2 linked regions of the Homo sapiens genome follow. The protein of the gene in region 2 interacts with the protein of the main gene of each other region in a pairwise test. Each region holds a gene or a part of one and is shown on either strand. Other genes may lie near its edges.

Evidence for each region. Proteins that work in one complex are often made in the same cells at the same time.
Region 1: the proteins of HTR2B (region 2) and INSIG1 interact in a two-hybrid assay, tested with the Homo sapiens proteins (one large-scale study listed by BioGRID and IntAct).

The regions. Positions count from the first base shown.
Region 1 is NC_000007.14:155,300,722-155,304,377, reverse strand, and holds part of INSIG1 (insulin-induced gene 1 protein), read right to left. Parts: intron 2,813-3,656; coding exon 2,688-2,812; coding exon of another isoform or gene 2,658-2,687; intron 2,128-2,657; coding exon 1,961-2,127; intron 1,632-1,960; coding exon 1,532-1,631; intron 554-1,531; coding exon of another isoform or gene 483-553; intron 1-482. UniProt on the Homo sapiens protein: Oxysterol-binding protein that mediates feedback control of cholesterol synthesis by controlling both endoplasmic reticulum to Golgi transport of SCAP and degradation of HMGCR.
Region 2 is NC_000002.12:231,115,033-231,118,688, forward strand, and holds part of HTR2B (5-hydroxytryptamine receptor 2B), read right to left. Parts: intron 1-3,656. UniProt on the Homo sapiens protein: G-protein coupled receptor for 5-hydroxytryptamine (serotonin). Also functions as a receptor for various ergot alkaloid derivatives and psychoactive substances.

The DNA of each region.
Region 1 (3,656 bases), on a different chromosome or scaffold from region 2:
AATGATGGAGTTGCCAGCTCTCCTTTGAAGACTATTAACGGGGATGATGGCGAATGCATGAAAACAACATACTATTTCCATGTGGGACCATCCGACCAGATTTTTAATATTAAAAAAAGCAAGGCCAGGCTCACGCCTATAATCCCAGTGCTTTGGGAGGCCAAGGTGGGAGGATGGCTTGAGCCCACGAGTTCGAGCCCGGCCTGGACAAGGCAGGGAGATAACATCTCCACAAAAAGCAAAAAAGTTAGCCGGGTATGGTGGCATGTGCCTGTAATCCCAGCTACTCGGGACGCTGAAGCGGGAGGATTGCTTGAGTCCGGGAGCTCAAGGTTACAGTGAGCTATGATGGCACCACTGCACTCCAGAGCTCTGTCTCAAAAAAAAAAAAAAAAAAAAAAGGCAAGCAAAGTCCTTTCTTCTCCATCATGAGAAATTTGGCAGCAGAGAGTCAGTAACCAGTGGAAGACTGCAAATTCTACCTGTAATTACTTCTGGTTTTGTGAAACAGCCAAGTGGTCTTCAAATTCAACTCCTCACAGAAGGGTATCAGCTGGCAAAAATAAATGTACTGTTTTAAAAATAGCATGAGGTACTAAGATAAGTTTTCCCAGAGCTTATCTCCGAGAGCAACAGCTCTAGGTTTTTGTTGTTTTTTTTAATTTACTTTCTTTCAGCCTGCCAAAGTCAACTCAAAATAACATTTAAAAGTCCACCTCTATGTTTTTAAATTGAAGTGCTAAGATGTCAATTTTTAACTAATGAGAACTGCTAAAGCCATCCTGGAGTTCACTACCTTTCCGTCTCCCTCAGGGGGGCTGTGAGAGAAGCTCTGCGGGGTAGCACTGCTTTCTCCTGCAGCTGAGAACAGATGCAATGTTCAGGCAGGACAGTCCGTCTACATGGTGACCCGGCCACGTGCAGCGGTGCTCTCATCACCACTTCTCCATGCCCAGGGCCACCTGCCCCACAGAAAGGTGCTGCCTGCCTGAACCAGGCTGTCCCCTTGCCCACCCACATTAGTCCCTGCCCTGGCCCGAGACAGACTCTGCAGCCTCAGGCTCGATTTGCTTGACTGTGGACTAAGAGGCCAGCATCATCTGCATCCACTCTGATTTTGTGAAAAGAAACACTGGTGGACTGATGCTCAGGGAGCAAAGTATCACTGCATGAGGTCATCCAGATCTGCTTCCGATGGTGAAGGAGGAGGGGACACTCACACACCAGTCACTTTCTCTACTGCTTACTACAGAAATTTCAAGAATTCAGAACACTGACCACATCTGCAATTCAAAGGGGCAGTGCGAGGGCTCTAGTTCCTTTTCTAGATCAAATATTATGAATTTTTATAATTTAGCAAAGAATTACCTGGGTATCATTACCTATTTTTTTAAATATAAGCTTTTCTCAGTAGTTGTCACTCAAGTCTGAACCAGAATATATGAACGCAAATTTGAATGTATCATGTAAAGTCATTCTATCAAGGTAAAGAGACGCAAGTTTTAGAAGATAATATGATCATTTCACTTACCATAGCTAACTGTCGTCCTATGTTCCCCACCGTGACGCCTCCTGAGAAAAATATACAAGGGAGCCAAGAACGAATATAGAGGAAATCTGGGGATGTATACCTGGAGCGAGAAAAGAAACTGTACCTTAGCAGTCAATTTCACCTGGCTCAATTCTACATCACAGATTCTCTGTAGTGGGGATATGCAGAACGCATATCAACCATCCAATGTTACGAATGTTCATATTTGTTTGGTTGTAACTGCTACTACTTGGTTTTCCTTTGCGTTACATTAAGTTATGGATAGCAGCATTTTTGAGAATTTCATGCCTAAATCTGTATCATTCTATATAAAAAACAAATAAAATATGAAAATATCTAAGCTTAGTGGATGTTTTAATGAAAGTTAAGTAAGCTTTCCAAAGCCAATATTTGAAAACACACACTTACTGATAGACACCATTATACACGAGAAACTGCGTGATCAGCGTAGCTAGAAAAGCTATGGTGATCCCCAGCCCAAGGCCACTTCTGGAACGATCAAATGTCCACCAAAGGCCCAAAGATAGGGCTGCTAAAGTCAAGGACAGCTGGACATTATTGGCAAAATCCAATTTCTGGTGATATAAAAGTTAAGGAAAAGTTTGCTGACTCTTATTAAGATAAAAAAACGTAAAACCACAAGGGTTAAAAACATGGGTATTTTATTATTGTACCACAGATAATTCACTGTCCATAAAAACTGTGTAATAAGCTAAAGAAAGGATTTGTTGGATACAGGTTACAGTAATCATTAAGATCACCTGAAATCTCCCTGCCATCACTGAGTCAAAAACTTAACCATAAGAATAAACTTGCTGAAAGCTATATATAAAGTGCTTATATATATTTATATAAATATATATTTATTATATATATTATATATATTTAAAAATATATATAATATATATAAAAATATAAATAAATATATATTTATTTTGACCATAAAACAATATATTTTACTATGAAGTCATCGATAGCCCCATTCTTCTTTCTCTTTTTAGTAATCTGAAATGGGTAGGTACCACCATCATGTCTGTATTATGACATGGAGTCATTTGAGTATATAACAAAACAAAACGCTTCAATATATAACCTAAGAAGATACTCTGGACGTAGCACAGAAAATTAAGGATACAGCACTGGCGTGGTTAATGCCAACAAAAACTGCTATGCAGCGCATGACACTGGCCCATTCTCTCTTAAATTTGTGGGGTTCTCCGAGGTGACTGTCGATACAGGGGTACAGTAGGCCAACAACAGCTGTTTTAAAAAAGTTGACAATGTTAGAATACAGCAGATTCAAGTTCCAGAATTTCAACGTGGTCATTAGTAACACAGTACATTACTCAAACCAGTCCTTTTCCTAGAAAAAATTATCAGCTATAACTTCAGAGTGATTTTATATTCTTGTTCTCTTTGAGTACCACTCCCACAAAATTGTACTGTTTGGAAAAGTTTTTTAAAAATCACTATTATTTAGTGTAGTTGAACATGTCTCAGTAAACACAGGAAGGAATCAAGCAGGGATTATTCATATTAATATGAGCAATATGTAACCTTATATTTAATATCCACATTTGCCTAAAGCACACAGAACTTAAATGACTATGTAGTTCACCTTGTCTTTTCATCCGGTGTGATTTCTATCTTACAATAAAAAGGTTAGCATCTGTCCACACCCTGTCACATCACAGCTCTGACACTCCTGCCACCACCCAGTACTGGGGCTGGGCACGTGATGAGATACATATTTGCTGATGTGACTTTGACAGTCTGGGTCACATGCTCCTAGAGTGGCCCTGGAGTTGATTTTCGGGGGTTCTAGCATGTTCTGTACGAGGCACTGAGCACCTACTGTGCACACATGCACATGGGCAAGTACGGGGCGAGACAGCCCCACACAGGCTTCGCTTATTCTCCATCTGGTTCCCGCATGGTCAAGCCTCAAGCTGCGGAAAGAACACCAGACCAAGAAGAGAAAACTCAGCCTCAAATCCCAGCTTGCCCTCTGATGGGACGTGGCTCTGCATGTTTGTTTTCTCATGTGTAAAATTATAAGGATTATGTAACTGGGACACAGAGAAAGAGATCACTGTGGTCTGGA
Region 2 (3,656 bases):
CAGGTATATCTGACTTTGACAGGTATAAAGTGATTGTCATAATTGAAGGAAAACCAGAATAATCATCTCAGGATTACAGAACAACAAGAGACTCTTCTATTGTTAACTGTTTAAAATTTAAGGAGCCTGGGGGTGGAGAGAGATTAAAATCTCAGACCAAAAAAAAAAAAAGCATAATTTAGGGGCAGAGTTTTTAGATAGATTTGGCTGTTATTTTCAAGCATCAAGTAGGAGATTTTTTTAAAGTCAGGTAGGATTTCAGTGAAAAATATCTGGGCACTTGACAAAGTATCCAGAAGGTAGCAAGGCTGACACATCTACTTTTTGGTGCCTTCTGTTTCCAGAGTTGGTATGTGGCATTCTGAATAAGAATATTAAAATATTTCTTCCTAGGAACAAAATAACAAAATCAGCACAAACTTTTACTCAGAAAGAATAAATGATTGGGACTTAGTTCTATGTTCAGCAGCTTCTTAAAAAGGGATTAAAGCATCAAGTGGAAAGGGTCATTCATACTTTTCAGTGTATTACTGTAAATAAACTTTGCCTGCTTGTTGAATTGGGGGTAGGAAGGGATAGAGGTGGTAAATTTTAGATTTATTGAGCTGGAAGGAACCTTAGAGATTACCATTGATCTTGCAGATGAGTAAATTCAGGTATAATTAAGTCTGAATATAGAGGTAAGGAGGGGAGGCATTTATTTATTGAAATGTAAATGTTATCTGAAAGTGTTATTTAGAACTGCCACTCAGAGTTTGCTCTTAAGATGGAGAGTGAGGATCGGCATCACCTGGGTACTTAGATATGCAGGCTCTTGGGTCTCATCTCAGACCTACTGTATCAGACTCTGCAGTTAAATAAGGTTTCCAGGTGATTCGTATGCAAATTAACATTTGAGAAGCAGTGCTTTGGAAGACTTTCTGGTAAGGTTTGTGTCTGAGTCTTAAAAGATGCACCTAAGTTTCCTGTTGTAGGGTTGGTTATAGGCACTTGGAATGTCTCATGGAAAGGAACTAATGGGAGGCCTCTCAGAATAAATTAAGTCAGAGAAACTGGTGTTTGGAGAAAATCTAATCAATTGGATTTTCTCACTCTTAGCCATAGCATTCAGATTTTTTGTCATTTAGTGGAAAAGGACCTTGGACACAGGCAGCTTCAAAGCGAACTAACAGTCTAAGTATAGTGAAAAGAATCATTTTAGAGTTTGCAGTGGAAACTACTAAAAATGAGGGTACATCTTGAGCTGAAGTTCTAGATTTAGGACTGTAAGTAGGGTGGTAGGAAAATACTCGTCTAGAGCTATAATCAGAGATATTGATTGCAGTTAAGGATTTAAAAGGCAGGTAATTATTGTGTTATATCTTAGATTTCCTTCCTTGAAGTCCTTACTCTCTCTGTAACATCTTTTAAAATAGTTTGCCAACTATTTAAACCTGTCTATTTAGCTATTCTAGTTATGGATTATACTTCTGAAGATTAAGGTTTGGAAAATTCTAGTCATAAATCTAGTTGCCATAAGCAGGAAGCCATAAGAAAATTCATATAAAAAGTACGTGTCTTTGGAATTTGACCATCTGATCCACATACTCCTAATTGTGGGCTAAGAAGGAAAGTTTTTTAGTGCTGATTTAAGTAACCCTATGAAGCCCTGTTAGCCTCACTTTAAACAGAATTTATAAACTCATTCCCACTTAAAATTCACTAGAATTTTCTTATTACAGTTAGTGCTTTATTGTTAACAGAAATATTGAGATGTGATACAGAATTTTCTTTAAGAAAGAATGAGACTGAAATTTATAAGAGAGATGAATCTTTACAATTCCAAGCCTTTCTCATTTCAAGTTTCGTGAAACACTGGTGGATAGTTTTAATGAAACTAATATAAAAGAAAAAGATAACTGCATTAAATTAATAGAAACCTTATATACAACACAAAAAAGAAAAAGAGGCTTTTTTAAATGCCTAATATATTTGGGTAATCTAAGAATTTATAGAAATTAAAAACAGTTCTAGACACACTTGTTTTATAAAGGGGCTTTTCCTAGTCTAGAGACTTTCATTCTAAAATCATTTTTTAGTTAGTATTAATTTAGCTCAAAGTCAGAAAAGTTTATTTCTGTTTAGAATAACTAAATTAAAGGTTAAGTTGGTATGGTGAAATACTTTATTTCAAAACGTTTATTTTAGGAGTTTTGGTTTTAAGAATTTCTAATTACATTATTTGTTATAATGTATTCTGTCCAATATACTTCCACAAAGACTTAAGACATTGAAAATTTGAAATAATGAAGTGAAACAGTTACATACTTAAATGGAAAGAAAGAAATGTGTATCTAAGGGTCAGTCTGAGGGAAACAAGTTACTAGGTTCTTCAACTAAATTACTGTTATTCTGGGGCTCTAAATTAGACTCTTTCATTAAAATTAAGAAAGAATAATAGCATTTCTGTCAATGCCTGAAATAATTACAGACTGAATATTAAAGCAACAAAACAAGTCCTAGATGGGTCTTGTCTTATAGACAATTGTTTAATTATCTAAAGAATATCAGTAGCACAAATATTTTATTGTTTAAAATGAAGACTGCTTTAAATTCTGCCATGCATGAGGGATGGTAGGAGTTGTCATTCAGTTATATAAATTTTTATTTGTCTCCCAGACAAGGTTCAACAACTTCATAGGTATGGGCCTAGGTCTAATACCTTCCACAGAAAAGAGATCTTGCAGTCATCTGAAGGATTTGTACAAGTATAGGTTGACGCACAAGTATTCTTTTCCACTTAATATGAAATATAACTTTAACTGAAAAGAATACTGAGTTCTAACTTGTCCCTAGGGGGGAAAAAATTCTGTGATCCTCTGAACAGTTACATGGGGTTATTTAAGGTATAAATGTTGGTTCTGTATGCCAAATATGACAGTTTTGGCTGGTCAGATTTCTCATTGACATTTGAGAAAGCGGAATAATAAAGGTTAAGAGTGTGAATTCTAGAATCAGTCCTCCTGGGTTTAAATCATGTCTCTGCCACTTACTTTGTAATCTTGAACAGATTACTTATCCCTCTGCTTCTCTGTCCTCTGTAAAGTGGGGATAATAGTACCTGTTTTATAGGATTTCTTTAATAGAGTTTATATGGATGATGATTAAATACATGTGAAGTGTTTAGAACAGTTCCTGGCATAAAGAAAACACTCAATAAATGTTAGTGCTTATTACTATTGTTTAACAGAAACTAGCCAACTAACTCAACCATGAAAACACTCCTACATAGAAACAAGCCAAATCATCAGTATGAAATAAGAGTGTTTGTCTTTCTACCTGCTGTAGCAAAAGTGCATGCATCTGATTCAGCTTAAAACTTTAAGCTGTACTTTCCGGGGGTGAGGGAGGATGGGCTGAGAACAGTTAACTCTGTTTAACTTTCAATTGAATTTGTCATAAAAGTATGTTTTTTACTAACGTTGAATTTTAACTGCTGTTTATTTTATATACGGTACAGGAAAATAACCTGTATGCATTGCATGCCTGGGTTTTTTGTTGGTTTGGGTATTTTTTTGTTTGTTTTTGCTTTCTTTTGAATTAGTACAAAAACCTGAGGAGTTTTACTAGAAACCCCGTATCTTGATGAGGCAGACTTATTTTATCTGAAACCTGCT